4 linked regions of the Homo sapiens genome follow. The protein of the gene in region 3 purifies or fractionates together with the protein of the main gene of each other region. This does not show direct contact. Each region holds a gene or a part of one and is shown on either strand. Other genes may lie near its edges.

What was found. Proteins that work in one complex are often made in the same cells at the same time.
Region 1: the proteins of SLC26A8 (region 3) and CLPTM1 purify together in Homo sapiens (affinity purification with mass spectrometry; one large-scale study listed by BioGRID and IntAct). This does not show direct contact.
Region 2: the proteins of SLC26A8 (region 3) and RPAP1 purify together in Homo sapiens (affinity purification with mass spectrometry; one large-scale study listed by BioGRID and IntAct). This does not show direct contact.
Region 4: the proteins of SLC26A8 (region 3) and VPS13C purify together in Homo sapiens (affinity purification with mass spectrometry; one large-scale study listed by BioGRID and IntAct). This does not show direct contact.

What each region holds. Positions count from the first base shown.
Region 1 is NC_000019.10:44,978,711-44,983,277, forward strand, and holds part of CLPTM1 (putative lipid scramblase CLPTM1), read left to right. Parts: intron 1-4,567. UniProt on the Homo sapiens protein: Involved in GABAergic but not glutamatergic transmission. Binds and traps GABAA receptors in the endoplasmic reticulum (ER).
Region 2 is NC_000015.10:41,533,860-41,538,426, forward strand, and holds part of RPAP1 (RNA polymerase II-associated protein 1), read right to left. Parts: intron 3,343-4,567; 5' UTR 3,267-3,342; coding exon 3,086-3,266; intron 2,791-3,085; coding exon 2,642-2,790; intron 2,360-2,641; coding exon 2,270-2,359; intron 1,774-2,269; coding exon 1,653-1,773; intron 1,077-1,652; coding exon 855-1,076; intron 1-854. UniProt on the Homo sapiens protein: Forms an interface between the RNA polymerase II enzyme and chaperone/scaffolding protein, suggesting that it is required to connect RNA polymerase II to regulators of protein complex formation.
Region 3 is NC_000006.12:35,954,487-35,959,470, reverse strand, and holds part of SLC26A8 (testis anion transporter 1), read left to right. Parts: coding exon 1-11; intron 12-3,950; coding exon 3,951-4,319; intron 4,320-4,984. UniProt on the Homo sapiens protein: Antiporter that mediates the exchange of sulfate and oxalate against chloride ions across a membrane. Stimulates anion transport activity of CFTR.
Region 4 is NC_000015.10:61,920,550-61,925,116, reverse strand, and holds part of VPS13C (intermembrane lipid transfer protein VPS13C), read left to right. Parts: intron 1-2,354; coding exon 2,355-2,720; intron 2,721-3,083; coding exon 3,084-3,170; intron 3,171-4,469; coding exon 4,470-4,567. UniProt on the Homo sapiens protein: Mediates the transfer of lipids between membranes at organelle contact sites. Necessary for proper mitochondrial function and maintenance of mitochondrial transmembrane potential.

The DNA.
Region 1 (4,567 bases), on a different chromosome or scaffold from region 3:
CCATGAATGGGTTAATCAGTTCCTGAGGGGAGGGTCCTCATGACCCAGTCACCTCTTAAAAGCCTCATCTCTCAGTACTGGCACATTGGGGATTAAGTTTCACTGGGAGTGGGGAGTACTAGAGTACATCAGTAGTCCCAGCTACTTGGGAGGCTGAGGTGGGAGAATCAGCATGAGTTTTGGCCAGGACAAACATTCAAACCATAGCATTGTCCGTCCTCTTGTTTTCGAGAAGTTAATAATTGTTGTCATCTTTCTGCTTGCCTGGCTCTTTTTTTTTTTTTTTTTGAGACAGGGTCTCACTATGTCGCCCAGGCTGGAGTGCAGTGGACTATCTCAGCTCACCACAATTTCCACCTCCCAAGTTCAAGCGATTCTCCCACCTTAGCCTCCAAAATAGCTGGGACTACAGGCACACGCCACTACGCCCGGCTAGTTTTTGTATTTTTAGTAGAGACGGGGTTTCGCCATGTTGGCCAGGCTGGTCTCAAACTCCTGACCTCAAGTGATCGTCTGCCTCGGCCTCCCAAAGTGCTGGGATTACAGGTGTGAGCTGCCACACCCAGCCTTGCTTGGTTCTCTGTGAGCTTTTTCCCTGAGTCCTCTGTCTCCTGATGGGCAGCCGTAGAAATCTCTTGCTGTACCTGTTTGAGCGGAGCTGGAGAATGGCTTCCTCAGAAAGCCCCCCATTCTTCTAACGGGAGTTCTGTGTACTCCACCTAGCTTTCACTTTATTGAGGACTATTCCAGACATTCCCTGTGGATTTGGTTAAGATCCATCTGGCTGGTTTTGGGTGGCGCAGCAACAGACAGAATTCTATTTGTATGAGTTAGGTCTTACCTACTTCTTTTAGTACAAAAATATCCTAAAGGATGGTAATTTTTTTTTATCACCTATACTGGATGAAATGAAAAGTTGACTCTATGTGGGTCCCTAGAAATGACTTGGAAAGGTCTTCTGGAGTTACTTGAGCCCCTTTCTGAGTGAGTGTGTCTGAAGAATGTGCTGCGTTGGTATGTCCCACCCGGCTGACGTCCATGTGGTGAGATCTTTGGAGAACCAGGCAGAAGTGGCTTGAGGGGGTGTGACCTACAGGGTTGGTCTCACAGATGTTTCCCTGCAGGGGGATACGTCAGGGGTCTGGGCTAAAATGCCCGATGTTTCAGAGGTCGCTCTGAAGGTGACCCAGGTGGGTGGCTCTTCACCCTATTCTTGTACCCCGTTTGACGATCACCTAATCATCCCGTTGACCCAAATCGATGCCAGTATTTTCTGCAGTTTTGTCTTTGGTGAGTGTGATCCATGTCACTGTGTGGTGAGGTTTATTCACAGTCAGTCTGGTCTGTAAAATAGAACCTGCAGACAGTGAACCTGAAAAGCATACTAGGATCATCCAGGCCTCCCTCCCCAGCCTTGGAGCTGGGACCCTCAAAGCAGGGACATAGAAGGACTTGGAGTGAGCCACCCACAAACTCCAGGGTGAAGGAGAGTGTGAGTTCAGAAAAGCCCCCTTTTGGCTGGTTGTGGTGGCTCATGCCTGGAAACCCAGCACTTTGGGAAGCCAAGGCAAGCAGATCACTTGAGGTCAGGACTTCGAGACCAGCCTGGCCAACATGGTGAAACCCTGTCTCTACTAAAAATACAAAACTTAGCTGGGCATGGTGGCACATGCCTGTAATCCCAGTTACTCGGGAAGCTGAGGTGGGAGAATCTTTTGGACCCCGGAGGCGGAGATTGCAGTGAGCCGAGATCGTGCCACTGTACTCTAGCCTGGGCGACAGAGCAAGACTCCATCTCAAAAAAAAAAAAAAAAAAAGAAAAGAAAAGCCCCTTTTATCCCCAAGAGGCCAATAATCAGTATTCTAGAGCAGCTCCGTCCCATGGAGATAGGATGTGAGCCAGAGAAGGCATTAAAATTTTTCCAATAGAAAAATACTAAAGAGTAAAAAGGTAAAGAGAGGCCAGGCACGGTGGCTCATGCCTGTAGTCCCAGCACTTTGGGAGGCCAAAGTCAGAGGATCGCTTGAGCCCAGGAGTTTGAGGCCAGCCCTGGCAACATAGGGAGACCTCATCTCTACAAAAAAAAATTTTATTTTATTTTATTTATTTTATTTCATTTTATTTATTTATTATTATTTTTTTTTGAGATGAAGTCTTGCTCTGTTGCCCAGGCTGGAGTGCAGTGGTGCAGTCTCGGCTCACTGCAAGCTCTGCCTCCCGGGTTCACGCCATTCTCCTGCCTCAGCCTCCTGAGTAGCTGGGACTACAGGCGCCCGCCACCACGCCCGGCTAATGGTTTTTTTGTATTTTTAGTAGAGACCAGGTTTCACCGTGTTAGCCAGGATGGTCTTGATCTCCTGACCTCGTGATCCACCCGCCTTGGCCTCCCAAAGCACTGGGATTACAGGCATGAGCCAGCGCGCCTGGCCTATTTTATTTTATTTTTTTTTGAGACAGAGTTTCACTCTTGTTGCCCAGGCTGGAGTACAGTGGCATGATCTTGGCTCGCCACAGCCTCCACCTCCCAGGTTCAAGCAATTCTGCCTCAGCCTCCCAAGTAGCTGGGATTACAGTCATGTGTCACCACGCCCAGCTAATTTTGTATTTATAGTAGAGATAGGGTTTCTCCATGTTGGTCAGGCTGGTCTCGAACTCCCGACCTCAGGGGACCCACCTGCCTTGGCCTCCCAAAGTGTTGGGATTACAGGCGTGAGCCAAAAAATTTTTTTAAATTAGCCAGATATGGTGGTGCGCAACCTGTAGTGTCCTCCGACTCAGGAGGCTCAGGTAGAAGGATCATTTGAGTCCAGGAGGTCAAGGCTGCAGTGAACTGTGATCAGGCCACTGCACTTCAGCCTGAGCAACAAAGCGAGACCCTGTCTCAAAAAGAAATATAAATAAAATAATAAAAAGGTAAGGCCAGGGCCGTGATGGCTCACACCTGTAATCCCAGCACTTTGGGAGGCCAAGGCTAGAGGATTGCTTGAGCCTAGGAGTTCGAGACCAGCCTGGGCAACATGGCAAAACCCCCCCTAATAAAAATACAAAAATTAGCCAGGCATGGTGGCACATGCCTGTAATCCCAGCTACTCGGGAGCCTGAGGTAGGAGGATCACCCAAGCCCAGGAGGTTGAGGCTGCAGTGATCACACCACTGCACTCTAGCCTGGATAACAAAAGGAGACCCTGTCTCACAAATAAATAAATAAAAAGGTAAAGAAAAACCATGAGATTAATATCAATAATAGTTTAATTGAGCTCAACATATTCTCGTTTCAACATATGATCAGTATAAAAAGTGAGATATTTTACATTTTTGTTTCCCCTTGTGTCAGTTTTCAGAATCTAGTGTGTGTGACTGGGCACGGTGGCTCACATCTGTAATCCCAGCACTTTGGGAGGTTGAGGCAGGTGGATCACTTGAGGCCAGGAGTTTGAGACCAGCCTGGCCAACATAATGAAACCCCAGCTATACTAAAAATACAAAAATTAGGCGGGCATGGTGGCTAACGCTTGTAATTCCGTCTACTCGGGAGGCTGAGGCAGGAGAATCACTTGAACCCAGAAGGCAGAGGTTGCAGTGAGCTGAAATCGTGCCACTGCACTCTAGTCTGGGCGACAGAGCGAGACTATGTCAAAAAAAAAAAAAAGGGTCTAGCGTGTGTTTTATATCATAGCACTTCTTGGTTTGGACCAGCCATATTTGCAGTGCCCAGTAGCTGCATGTGGCCAGCAACCCTGATACTGGATGGTGCAGCTCTAGAAGATTTTCCTCCAAGAAAGGGGGGCTTTTTCCTCCCCACAGGAGCCAGGTCCATCTGGTCTGGATGCCTCCAAGCTGCAGAATGTGTTCTTTGCCTGAGCCAAAGCCTCTCTCCCCTGTGCCTCCCCCTCCACCAGCCAGCGCTGCCCTCTGGGGCTCTCCCTTCCCTGGACAGTCTCTGTCAGGTGTGGACACGATTGGGGCATGTCCCCCTGGAATTTTCTCCAAGTCAACCCTTGAGTGTTGGTTTCTCCCCCTGGACACAGGAGGAAGATCCCCAATGATTTAATAATCATAGAAATGATGAGGATTGGCCAGGTGGCTCAAGCCTGTAGTCCCAGCAATTTGAGAGGCCGAGGCAGGTGGATCACTTGAGGTTAGAATTTGAGACCAGCCTGGCCAACATGGTTAAACTCCGTCTCTACTAAAAATACAAAAATTGCTGGTCATGGTGGTGGATGCCTGTAATCCCGGCTACTCGGGAGGCTGAGGCAGGAGAATTGCTTGAACCTAGGAGGCAGAGGTTACAGTGAGCTGAAGTCATGCCACTGCTCTCTAGCCTGGGCAACAGAGTGAGACTCCATCTCAAAAAAAAAAAAAAAATGAGGATGACGTTTCTGCTAATAAGCAGTAGGCCCTGGGCCAAGAAGTGGTGAGGCTTTTCTTCCTTCTTTAGGGAAGTGACATCACTCACCAGCATCCCTTAGCTTGTAGGATTCAGAGCCAAGATTGCCCCCAGAGCCCCCGCTGTTGGCCAGGTCTCTTTCCCCTTTCCCTGTCTCTCCCTGGCCCCAGGGGACAGGA
Region 2 (4,567 bases), on a different chromosome or scaffold from region 3:
CGCAGTGGCTCCAGCACTTTGGGAGGCCAAGGCCAGTGGATCACCTGAGGTCAGGAGTTCGACACCAGCCTGGCCAACATGGTGAAACTCCGTCTCTACTAAAAATACAAAAATTAGTTGGGTATGGTGGTGGGCACCTGTAATCCCAGATACTCAGGAGGCTGAGGCAGGAGAATCATTTGAACCCAGGAGGCGGAGGTTGCAGTGAGCCTACGTCGCGCCATTGCACTCTAACCTGGGCAACAAGACCGAAACTCCATCTCAAAAAAAAAAAAAGGCCGGGCATGGTGGCTCATGCTTGTAATCCTAGCACTTTGGGAGGCCGAGGAGGGCAGATCACCTGAGGTTGGGAGTTCGAGACCAGCCTGACCAACATGGAGAAACCCTACCTCTACTAAAAATAAAAAAATTAGCTGGGCGTGGTGGCAGATGCGTGTAATTCCAGCTACTCGAGAGACTGAGGTAGGAGAATCTCTTGAACCCGGGAGGCGGAGGTTGTGGTGAGCCGAGATTGTGCTATTGCATTCCAGCCTAGGCAACAAGAGTGAAACTCTGTCCCCCCAAAAAAAAAAAAAAATTAGCTGAGTGTGGTGGTGTGTGCCTATAATCCCAGCTACACAGGAGGCTGAAGTGGGAGGATTGCTTGAGCCGTGAAGGTGGAGGTTGCAGTGAGCCGAGATCGTGCCACTGCATTCCAGCCTGGGTGACAGAGCAAGACCATCTCAAAAAAAAAAAAAAAAAAAAAAAAAGCATTAAAGTACTCAGCACAGTGCCCGGAACTCACAGTAAGCCTAGCTCAATAAGTGGTATTCCTCTCCTAGCCTGGTCTCAGCAGGAAAGCCAGGCACCCATACCAAGCTGGGCCAGCAACCGCTGCTGTTCCTGCAGGATCTCCTCAGGAGCCATGGCCTGCAGTCTTGCTATGTTCTCTTCATGGATAGTCTGGGCTTCCTGCTCAGCTTCTTGATCCCTGAGCCCCTTCCCTGTGACCAGATTGGGTCCCTGAAAGCTGTGGCTGCTCCCAGGAAGCTGGCAGCCCTGGTTCCTAGGAGTGGGTGTCTCACAGGTCACGGCACCTGGAAGAAAGGTATGATCACATTCATTGCTCTGTCCTCCAGGGCTCTAACTGGGCTTTTTGGCCTTCTTCTATAAGGCTATTAGCCCTGGAGACAGGTATAGACCCAAACTTTCCTCAGAGTGGAGACCCCACTGGGTCTGGCACAGGGACTCCAGGTGGCTTCTCCACTCACTGCTTCCCTAGTACTTATATGAAAAGGTTTTCCTCAGAAACATCCTAATTTCTGACTCCTCTTAGATATCTAGGCAGGCATCTATAGCCAGGGGCCTGCTCCCAGCTGTTAAGCTAATAATTTGCATCATTAAAGGGATCTTGGCCAACACATTTATTTTACAGTCTCTGCCAGACACTTCTGCCCTATTCCCTTTCTCTTAGGACTGCATAATGGCCTGCCCCACTCCCAGCACCTGAGACCCAGATATGGACCCAAGCCTCCCATACCTAGTATTCTCAGACTACTTGAGATGGCTCAAATGCACCTCTCATTTGAGGCAGGAAGACATATCTTCAAAAATGACCCTATGATTGTGTCTTTTAAAAAGGCCAAGCCCAATCCTCTTCAACCCCGGCTCACCCTCTGGTGGGCCCACGTTGGGCACAACTTCCCCAACTGATGGGCCCTTGGCTTCAGCTATCCTCCTTGCCGCAATTTCCTGGGCAAAGATGCTTCTCTTACCAGATGTTGCTGATTTCCCCTGTGGGGCAAAAAGAAAACCCAGGTTACTGATGCTCATCATCCCACTTTCCTCTCAACCTCTTTATATCAAGGCCTCTGGAACAAAGAGATAAAAGGGGATTTGCTCAATTTCCAGGGATCACAACCCTAGTTCTCAGAAAAAGGAGAGGTCTATAAGAGTAAAGGTCTTAGACTCTGACAGACTTGGGTTGAAGTTCTGGCTCTTCTACCTATTAGATGTGTGGTGTTGGACAAGTTATTTATCTCTTTGGGGTCTCAGTTTCCTCATATGAAAAATGGGAATAAGGACTCCTCATCCCCAAGGTATCATCATGATACCTGCCTTATATGTTTGTTATGAAGATTAAAAGAAGTAATGGGTATGAAGTGCTTAGTATGATCCTGCTTTGTAAATTAAATTGCTTATCATCATTAAAACTACCTGCCTGGAGAAGATGCACTATGAGACTCACCTGTCTGTCTCCTGAGCACCACCTAAGCTTACCCTTGCCTACCTGTGTGTCCCGCGAGCGAAGGAACACAGCAGGGAAAGCAACACCACTGGGCACAGGCAGATTCACGGCCACTGAACTTGTATCTCGTTCCTGTAGCAACAAAGCACAAAGTTGTGAAGCACAATGGAGAAACTTCCCCAGGCTGGACCCGATCCTATTAGCCCAGTTCTGAACGATGAGAACCTCACTCTGGGGGGTTACGGACCCTCCTCCCTTCAGGGCAGTGATTCTAACCCAGCCCCCAACCTGACCTCAGGGGTAAAAGTCTACCTTTCTGAAGCACCCTCCACTGATAAGCCTCACCCACCCCGAGCATCCAATATCCCTGTTGCCCTAGAACATCTTATCCTACTCAGCCAGAGTGAGACGCACAATAATCTTAGTCAAGACAGCAGTGATGTGCTGATCATGCCTCCTCAGCCTCTCTTCTGGGTCCTCATCCTCAGGCAGGCAGTGGCCAGGGCTGGGCCTGGCTCTCTTTGGAGGAGAAGGGACCAAAGCTGGGGGCAAATCTGGGAGATCTGAGAAAGAAAAGATCCCAAACGTGAGTATATGCACACCTTCCTAGGAAGACACTGCAGGCTAGGGAAGAAAGACAGCTGCCATGGGGCCCTGGCTCAAGCTGTGTCATCTTGGGTAAGATATTTAACCTCTTTGAGCCTCATTTTCTTCCTCTGTAAAATGGGGCTGCAGAAACACAGGCTATGCAGTGTCTGAAATAATAATGATGTGTCTGAATCCAACCACAACAGGAAGAGGGAGGGGCCCGAGGCTGTACCCTCTCTACTTCTCAGCCTCACATCCATGGGAACTCACTGTCCAACATCACCACATCCCGATGGTCCTGGAGCGGAGGCCGGTCTGAGTTGGCATCACCACCGCCCCTATTTCCTTTCTTCACCAACTGCACTGCTGGGGCTGCACCAGCTGCGAGAAACTGACTCTGGAAGTGCAGCAGGTCCACCTCGGACTCCCCTGGCTTCGGTCTCGACAGCATCTTGCTGCTCCAGCTGCCTCCCCAGTACGACTCTCTCCAGCAGTGTCTCCGTGTGGGGGTTCCCTCTTATTCATCCCTAAGAGCAAGAAAGAATATGGGCCCTCTGCAACTGAACCCTGATTCTCTTTATTGGGCAACAGCGAAGATCTTCTTTATCCTTGGGTTAACATGAACTCATTCCTCCTCATTCATACCTTACTGCCATTCCCTCTGTCTTCAGCCCTCCCTGATGTCATCAGCCTAGCAACAATATTTATAGCCAACTTAGGTTGTTTACAATCTATAGGTGATAAAACTCTCAGGAACAACCAGCAGGAGACCTGAGGAAAATGTCATCAGGGGCCGAGCAGATAAATGTTGTCATAATGGGGGGGTGATGATTCTGTATCAAACTGGAGAGAACATGCTTGGCCTAAAGGTATGTAAATTATTAAAAACCTTGGGCTGTAAAATATCAATATAAAAAACATTTGTGGCCAGGCGCAGTGGCTCACGCCCGTAATCCCAGCATTTTGTAAGGCCGAGGAGGGTGGGTCACCTGAGGCCAGGAGTTCAAGACCAGCCTGGCCAACATGGTGAAACCCCATCTCTACTAAAAATACAAAAAATTAGCTGGGCATTGTGGTGGGCGCCTGTAATCCCAGCTACCTGGGAGGCTGAGACAGGAGAATCGCTTGAACCTGGGAGATGGAGGTTGCTGTGAGCCGAGATTGCACCATTGCACTCCAGCCTGGGCAACAAGAGTAAAACTCCGTCTCAAAAAAAAAAAAAAAAATTGTATGTCTATGCACTAGCAAAGAACATGCAGAAAATGGAATTAAGAAAACAATTGCATTGGCCGGATGCGGTGGCTCACGCCTGTAATCCCAGCACTTTGGGAGGCCAAGGCGTGTGGATTATGAGGTCAGGAGATCAAGACCATCCTGGTTAACACGGTGAAACCCCGTCTCTACTAAAAATATAAAAAACTAGCCGGGCGTGGTGGCGGGCACCTGTATTCCCAGCTACTCGGGAGGCTGAGGCAGGAGAATGGCGTGAACCCGGGAGGCGGAGCTTGCAGTGATCTGAGATGGAGCCACTGCACTCCAGCTTGGGCGACAGAGTGAGACTCTGTCAAAAAAACAAAACAAAACAAAACAAAAAACAGACAGGATCTCACTCTGTCACCTAGGTTGGAGTGCAGTCTGCTATCATAGCTTACTACAGCCTCAAACTCCTGGGCTTGGGTGATCCTCCCACTTGACACAGAAAGTTAATTTAATTGCCCCAAATCCACAGTAAATGTCAGAAACAGAATCTCA
Region 3 (4,984 bases):
CGCTGCCCAGGGTTAGAAATGCCTTTTCTTTCCTATGTTTTTCTCCATATTTTATAAACAAGTACACTAGTCATTTCTTAAAAAAAAAATCAAAACCTCTAAGGGATTTTGACTTTTAGATGGACCATGAAGAATTCAGAAATTAAGATACAAGGTTCCTCTCACCTTGGAGGCTTGACTGAAAAAAAAAAGGCACAAGATTCCCCCTTGAGGTTCAGGTTTTCACAAGAAAGTAGGTGGGAAGTGTTCTGACTTCTACTGGTTGAACAGTGACCAGAGAACAGTTTGCCTGTTGAGACTGTAATTCTGTAGTTGCACCTATTTCCCTGGCTCTTAGCGGCCAAGCTTTAGATTTCTGAAAATAAGTGACTTAAAGATTGTTTTCTGATTCCAACTAGGGCAAGGTCAAGGTTGCTGGGCTTCTCAAGGATCTGCCAGGGTCTCCTGATGTCTTCCTATGGCCAAGAAAATGATGATGGGAGATGGGGGAAAGGAGCGGGGAGGATGAGCACAGGCCGCTATTTCAGATGGGAATTTTACAGCATTTGGAGGTTATTTTTACTGATGAGAATTACAAAGTGTTCATTATTTCCAAACTGGACTTGATCTAAGTAGTCCCTTCCCCCAGAGCAGGATTGCTCATTTCTAGCTTTTGGGTCTTTCGGCAATCACCTAGTCTACAGCACTCACTCTGGAGGGGCAGCTCTCTCTATACACAAAGATTTACATCCTCCCCCGCAACACACACACACAAATGCCTCCACCCGCCATGCAGGTGCTTGCAAAACCCTGAGCATCCACTCTTGTTCCCATACATTCTAATGGAGCATAGGTTCCACTGAGCTACTGAGAAGGGGTTTCACCATGTTGGCCAGGCTAGTCTCGAACTCCTGACCTCAGGCAATCCACCTGCCTCAGTCTCCCAAAGTGCTGGGATTACAGGGGTGAGCACCATACCTGGCTTGTTTTTTTCTTTCATAATAGTGGTATATCTTAAGATTGACAAAATAGCATAGTGAATCATGCAATATAGCATATAGCTGTCTTTTAAATTGTATGTTTAGATTCTAACAGCCCCAAGTAGCTGGGATTACAGGTACATGCCACCATGCCTGGCTAATTTTGTATTTTTAGTAGAGATCGGGGTTTCACCATATTGGTCAGGCTGGTCTCGAACTCAAGACCTCAGGTGATCCACCTGCCTTAGCCTCCCAAAGTGCTGGGATTACAGGCGTGAGCCACCACACCCAGCTAGATTCTAACAGCTCTTAAGACATCAAGTAAGGGGAGATTGGCATGAGCTCAAAAGTCAGAAAAACTTTGTGGTAGCATCAGCCTGTGCTGGGAAATTTATGAGAGAATTTTAGATTGAAGTTGGGTAGGAAAAAAGAGGATTCCCAGTCCATGGACAGGCTTCGACAAAGACACCAAGGTAGAAATAAACGTGGGGCTCTTAGGATAGAGGCTTAGCCTGGGAAGTAAGGTCAGGCAGATAACACATGAGGGGATTGTAAGAAAGATAAGAACGTAGAGTAGATGGAGGAGAGAAAAGAAGGATCTCGGATGGCCAGGCGCAGTGGCTTACGCCCGTAATCCCAAAACTTTGGGAGGCCGAGGCAGGCGGATCACCTGGGGTCAGGAGTTCGAAACTAGCCTGGCCAACATGGTGAAACCCTGTCTCTACTAAAAATACAAAATTAGCCCAGCATAGTGGCTCATGCCTGTAATCCCAGCTACTCGGGAGGCTGAGGCAGGAGAATCGCTTGAACCCAGGAGGCGGAAGTTCAGTGAGCCAGAATCTGTGCCACTGCACTCTAGCCTGGGCAACAAGAGCAAAACTCCATCTCAAAAAAAAAAAAAAAAAGGTGGCTCTCAGAGAATTCCCTCTGCCTAGAGGAGCTCACATCTCCCTGCCACTGAGCCAACCCTGGCCTGTTCCCCAAATGCCTGGCCCCAGTGACCTCAAGCCTTGGGAACAGCTCTCTCCTTTGAACTGCAAACTGCAGCATTATCATCTATCCACACCACTTTTCTTTTCTTTTCTGCTATACAATATATACTACCTCATATTGTTTTTAGCTTTAAATTTTTAAAATTTATTTCACAAGCAACATTGTTAGAATAACATTAAAAAAAAAAATAGAAACATCACCCAGAATTACACCACTCTAGCAAAGGAATTCTTCTCATTATTCCTTGTGCTTTATAGTTCTCATCCATATATATTCTTACTTATCCTTTTTATTTTGAGACGGAGTTTCACTCTTGTTACCGGGGCTGGAGTGGGATGGTGCGACCTTGGCTCACCACAAACTCTGCTTCCTGGGTTCAAGCAATTTTCCTGCCTCAGCCTCCCGAGTAGCTGAGATTACAGGCATTTACCACCCTGTCTGGCTAATTTTGTATTTTTAGTAGAGACGTGGTTTCTCCATGTTGGTCAGGCTGGTCTTGAACTCCCAACCTCAGGTGATCTGCCTGTCTCGGCCTCCCACAGTGCTAGGATTACAGGCGTGAGGCACACCCCCAGCTTTTGTTTTTTTTTTTTTCTTTTGAGATGGAGTTTTGCTCTTATTGCCCAGGCTGGAGTGCAATGGCACAATTTCAACTCCCTGCAACTTCTGCCTTCTGGGTTCAAGCGATTCTCCTGCCTCAGCCTCCTAAGTAGCTGGGATTACAGGCATGCACCACCACACCTGGCTAACTTTGTATTTTTAGTAGAGATGGAATTTCGCCATGTTGGTCAGGCTGGTCTCGAACTCCTGACCTCAGATGATCCACCCACCTCAGCCTCCCAAAGTTCTGGGATTACAGGTGTGAGCCACCATGCCTGGCCTTACTTATCCCTTCAATGAACGTGTGCACACTGCCAGGTAGAGTCTGGTTCCTGTAAATGCAGAGTCCACATTTGCATCCTGCACATCATTGTGTTCCTGGTCCTTGTTACTGTCCTTAAGCTATAGCAGGCAGTCTGGGCCTTTAGGAGGTTGACAGCAGTGGTAAAGACAGCCTTGCTCATGTAATTTTTTTTTTTTTTTTTTTTTTGGACATAAGGTCTTGCTCTGTTGCTCAATCTGGAGTGTGGTGGTGTGGTCACAGCTCACTGCAGCCTCAACCTCCCAGCTTCAAGCGATCCTCTCACCTCAGCCTCCTGAGTACCTGGGACAATAGGCGTGTGCCAGCTTTTTTTGGGGAGGGGGCAGGGGGGCACGACAGGGTCTCACTGTGTCACCCAGGCTGGAGTGTGCACTGGTGCAATCTTGGCTCACTGCAACCTTCATCTCCCAGGCTCAAGCAATCCTCCCACCTCAGCCTCCCCAGTAGGTGGGGCTACAGGCTCACTGACACGCCCAGCTATTTTTATTCTTATTTATTTTTTATTGTTTTGTATTTTTTGTAGAGACAGATTTTTGCCATGTTGCCCAGGCTGGTTTCAAACTGCTGAGCTCAAGGGATCCACCTGCTTTGACCTTCCAAAGTGCTAGAATTATAGGCATGAGCCACTGCACCCAGCCTTCAAGTGCTTTTTGTCTTAAGGAAGTCTGAAAGGAGACTGTTGCACTGATGAAGGAAGAGGGTGCTGAGACAAGGGACTGATGGGAAAAAAATACTTCACACAAAGTATTAGTAGGCACTGGAGACTAACTAGGACCCAAGCATGAGGAAAAGGAGTAAAAGATGTTTTAAGTCTGGCTCACTGGGACAGTGATGAACATCAGAAGTTGGGAGGGGGGTGTCGTGGGTGGTGAAGATGAGGAAAGATGACTGTGGGGGCTTCAGTTGTGAGCTTGAAGTGACAGATATCCAAGTAAAAAATGCACAGTACCTACTCTCGGGAGAAGTTTCATGAGAGAGGGACATGAGCTGGCAGAGACAAGAAATAGCATCGTTGCAAGTCCTTCCGGCCCTTGTTGGTGTCTTACCACAGCCCTCCCTTAACTCTGTCGTCCCAGATTCTTTACACAGAGCGATTTGAAAATAAACTGGATCCCGAAGCATCCTCCATTAACCTGATTCACTGCTCACATTTTGAGAGCATGAACACAAGCCAAACTGCATCCGAAGACCAAGTGCCATACACAGTATCGTCCGTGTCTCAGAAAAATCAAGGGCAACAGTATGAGGAGGTGGAGGAAGTTTGGCTTCCTAATAACTCATCAAGAAACAGCTCACCAGGACTGCCTGATGTGGCGGAAAGCCAGGGGAGGAGATCACTCATCCCTTACTCAGATGCGTCTCTACTGCCCAGTGTCCACACCATCATCCTGGATTTCTCCATGGTACACTACGTGGATTCACGGGGGTTAGTCGTATTAAGACAGGTAAGTACTGAGGAGGCCTTGGCAGGAGCTCTGATCCCCCTCCTACCATCCCAACCCCACCCTGATCCTGATTGAATTCTGTTAGTCACTGATCAGCTGCTATGAGACTGCTAGGCCACCAGAGCCTTGGACACCAAAGGCAGTACAATATAAGGTCAATCAAAATAAAAAGAGAATGAACCAATTCTTTTTTCTTTTTTCTTTTTTGAGATGGAGCCTCACTCTGTTGCCCAGGCTGGAGTGCAGTGGCACAATCTTGGCTCACTGCAACCTCCACCTCCCAGGTTCAAGAGATTCTCCTGCCTCAGCCTCCTGAATAGCTGGAACTACAGGCATGTGTCACTACGCCCTGCTAATTTTTGTATTTTTGGTAGAGACGGGGTTTCACCATGTTGGCCAGGTTGGTCTCAAACTGCTAACCTCAAGTGATCCGCGCACCTCGGCCTACCAAAGCTCTGGGATTACAGGCGTGAGCCACCATGCCCAGCCTAAAATGAACCAATTCTGATGTATTGAGCTGCGGTTGGTTTGGTAAGCATAAAACATTATTATTTCTCAAGAAATGAAAAACAGGACACTCTGAACTTCACTGAAACAGCAATCTGTGCCACGCCCAGTAACTCCCAGAACATCCTGGGAGTCAGCTGCAAATCTCTTCAAGGAAT
Region 4 (4,567 bases), on a different chromosome or scaffold from region 3:
ATTACTTTATTTGTAATAAGTTCTTTTTAGGCTTTTATTTGATGTATAAGTTGATTGAATTTAATAACTATATGATTTGGCTTCAAATATTTATAATGACAGATGTACACTAGAAATAATTATTGGAGTTTACTGTTTTATTCACTACATTTAAAGCATTGAAAAACAATTATTGTTTTCCAATGGCGTTCAGGTTCTTTAAGTATACCTCGTGCCCAGTCACGAATAGAAGATATAGAATACTTTCTGCAATCTATTTCTCTGTTTGCACAAAGGATACAAAAATGAGTCCTTTTTTGGTTAATTGGTTAATGCCAATAATGGTAGTAGCTTTACTTATATAGGTCCGTGACCAACAGTGATTGAACTAAGGCTCAAACTCATTTCATTTGAAGTACCATGTAAATATCAATTTAGTTTTTTCTCAATATTTTAAAATACTGGATAGTCTTAGAATGTATATTGTTAATGGATTTACTTTTAAAAATATATAAAGTAGTAAATGAGGGAAAAACTCCTCGAATTTGCATATTTTAAAGCACTAGGTTAGGTGCTGGTGAGACTTTACATTCTTTGTGTATAAATTTATGATTGATTCAAAAAACGTTTTTGAGCTTTTACTGTGTATTAAAAAAATGTCCTTTACAAGGCATTGGGGATATGTAGCCCCTGCTGTCAAAAAACTTAATGACATATGCGGGAGAAAGAAAGAAATCAGTGATTACAGCTTTCAGTGCTAGAGGCATGGCCAAGATGCAGTTGGGAGCACAGGCATGGGGCCTTTAATTCAGACCAGGACATCAGGGAAAGCTGTGTAGAAGCAGGACTATTTGATTTGAGTTTTGAAGGGAGATTAAATAGATGGGGAGCATGGAAAGGTTTATCCAGACAGAACTGATAATATGCACAAAGGCAGAGGTGTGAAAAAATCCTTTAAGATTTAGAGGGGTGGCCGGGCGCGGTGGCCTCACGCCTGTAATCCCAGCACTTTGGGAGGCCGAGGCGGGCGGATCACGAGGTCAGGAGATCGAGACCATCCCGGCTAAAACGGTGAAACCCCGTCTCTACTAAAAAATACAAAAAATTAGCCGGGCGTAGTGGCGGGCGCCTGTAGTCCCAGCTACTTGGGAGGCTGAGGCAGGAGAATGGCGTGAACCCGGGAGGCGGAGCTTGCAGTGAGCCGAGATCCCGCCACTGCACTCCAGCCTGGGCGACAGAGCGAGACTCCGTCTCAAAAAAAAAAAAAAAAAAAAAAGATTTAGAGGGGTGGTCACATATGGCTGGAGAGAATGGTGTGGTGGCGTTGTAAGACTGGAAGCATTAATTATAAGTGACATTAATAAGACACGGAAAAAAAGTTGACAAGTAAGTTAGGAAAACAATACATACTAGATCCTGCTTTTGATGATATAATTATATCCCTTTACATTTTAAGTAAGGATTGTGAGAAGTGAACAATAAAGGAATACAGTTAACTTATTTAACCTAGTATTTCTCAAACTTTGGGAGAATCCTGGCTAGCTGGTTGAATAGGCACTAGGCCACAAAGAGCTCTGCACATTAAGTTAAAGAGAGTTTCAATTTTATCTTGTGGGATAAAAAAATTATGGGAAGTTGATGAAGATTTTAAACATAAGAATGTCATACTCAGATTTGGTTTGTAGAAAAATTATGCTGGTGGCAGTGTGGAGTGTAGGCTGAGAGGGCGTTGGCCGTAGAAGATGTCATCAGTGTAGAACTAAGGCACAGTAATAGGAAGTGAGGGAAGTGAGCAAAGAAAGGCACTGTCCAAAGATAATAAGAGGTAGGATTTATAGATCTTGGGGTAAGTCAAAGGAGAGCTGTGATTTTGAGTCTTCCAGCTTTAATAAGGCAAATGTATATCTTTTTCTTCCTTTTTTTTTTTTTCAGAAGATCTTGTTGCATACCGATATTTATGTGTATCTTGACAAGGATCACACACTTTGGCTTAGTTAATGTAGCTGTTTTTAAAATGAAGAATTTGTTTACATTGCTATACTTGTCTATTCACATAACACTGTTTTGCTCTGAATTGATCAGCTTAACTTTAGATTTTGACTACTGACATATAACATTAGTTATTTAATTCCAGATAACCTGAGTAGAAGTCAGTGTTGCATGATTACTTGGCTTGACACATAATTTTGTGTTCTCTCTTGTTTTTCTTGGTTACGAATTTATTCAAAATTTAAATTAGTTACTTTAATTTAAAATTAAAATTTAATTTAAAAATGTCACTTATAATTAATGTATGTCACTTAAAATCATGTATGTATATATTCTCATCTGGGAAAGAATTTATTATAAATATTTTTCTGCTTTCTTTTTTAAAGATTTCACCCATAATTCTTAATACTGTGTTGACAATCATGGCTGCATTGTCTCCAAAAACAAAAGAAGATGGATCCAAAGATACGTCTAAGGAAATGGAAAATCTTTGGGGTATCAAATCGATTAATGATTATAACACTTGGTTTCTTGGTGTTGACACGGCAACAGAAATAACGGAAAGCTTCAAAGGCATTGAACATTCACTGATAGAGGAAAATTGTGGTGTTGTTGTAGAATCCATTCAAGTTACCTTAGAATGTGGCCTTGGACATCGAACTGTACCTTTATTATTGGCAGAGTCTAAGTTTTCAGGAAATATTAAAAATTGGACTTCTCTAATGGCTGCTGTTGCTGACGTGACACTACAGGTATGGCCACATCACTTAATACCTTCAGAGACTTCTTGAAAGTGCGATTTTGGAATTAAGATATACACTTTTCTTGTTTGTGCATGGCCACTATGAGTACATATGTGAATAGATAGTGTGTTCTGACATTTAATTTGTCGATGTATTGTTTTTTGATAATTATTTTTTAAAGATTGATTTGCTAAATAATTTATGACAATAGAGTAAGAGAGTAAAGGAAAATACACTCTATATATTGTTAGATGGGTTTTGAAAATGGCTAATGATATATAACATTGATTACTTAATAATTTCCCTATTGGTTACAGAAATATGTAATTAAAGCCAAAGGACTGTCTTATAATTTTGTGTGTATCTTTCCAGGTGCACTATTACAATGAGATCCATGCTGTCTGGGAGCCACTGATTGAGAGAGTGGAGGGGAAGAGACAATGGAATTTAAGGCTTGATGTAAGGAAATCTTAAAATATCTTTGGATAGAATGATACTATGCATATTCATTCATAGTTTTTATTTCAGTGATTCTTAAGATGTGGTCTAGGATCCTTGAAGCCCTTTTAAGGGCTCTGTCCATGAGGTCAGAACTCTTTTCATATGTCATTTTCATTCTCATTCTCTCACGAGTGTATAGTGGAGTTTTCCAGAGACTAATGAAGGTGATACTGCAACAGATTGAATGCAGAACAGAAACGAGAATTTATCTGTCTTCCCTTAAGGCAGGCAGTAAAGAGATATATGTGTATGTTCCTCTTCTCACTGTATTTTTAAAATAGTTATTTTTGATTAAAAATGTTATTTATATTAGCATGTAATTTTTATTTTTAAATGAATTTTTAATTTTTTTTCAGTTTTAATTGTTAATAGAGTACATATTGGTAGATAAAACATAAATGAAGCTCTTTAGTATACTCAGTGATTTTTAAGGGTGAGACCAGAATATTTGAGAATTGTTAATGAACTCTTGTGTGTTATCTTTTTATGTTGTTTTTTGAGAACACCTCAGAAACCTAGATACTGAAGCACATTTTTCTTGATTAAAAGGAACTTGAGTCATATATTGTTAAGAAATTGTCGTAGCATACTTCTTTGGGGCAGCCTTACTAAGGAGTCAGGCACTGAAACTGACTCCACATATTCTTTTGTTAAAGATGAGTCACTTAACCTGTGTTCCAATTTCCTCTCAATAAAGAAGTAATATTTTTCTGACCTGCCTTTCTCTGGCATAGGGAGGCTAACAAAGAATGTTTTACAAGGCTTTTGAAATACTACTAGAACAGAAGCTGATGGAATCTGATGGCTAGTTAAGTGTTTATTATATTAATATTACTTATTTGAAGGTGTTATTGGTTTAAAAAATAGAAGGAGAGAAACATTTCCAGGTGGCACCTCTAATAGGGATCAGTTTAGACTTCAGGGTCCTCTTAGATTGCTCGTCAACACATAATCACCAGTTGGGTGACACTGAATAAATAGCTATGCTCTGAGGAATGCATAAGAGACAAATATTGTAGCTGGCTTTGAGTAATTTCATGGCGTAATTCTAAACTTTTCCCCATGCTTGGACTATACCCTGAAAGAATGAATGCTGAACTCCATGAAATCAAAGTGAAGCATGGTATATTTTTGAAAATAAGACTTTTGCGAAGCATTACTATAAAGTGATCAGTTTAGGAGAACTGAACTCCAGCATTTTTATTTTATTATCAACTGGCTAATAATTTAAATTTGCTGTGTTATTTTTCTTCATAGGTAAAGAAGAACCCAGTTCAGGATAAAAGTTTGCTGCCAGGAGATGATTTTATTCCTGAGCCACAAATGGCAATTCATATTTCTTCAGGAAATACAAT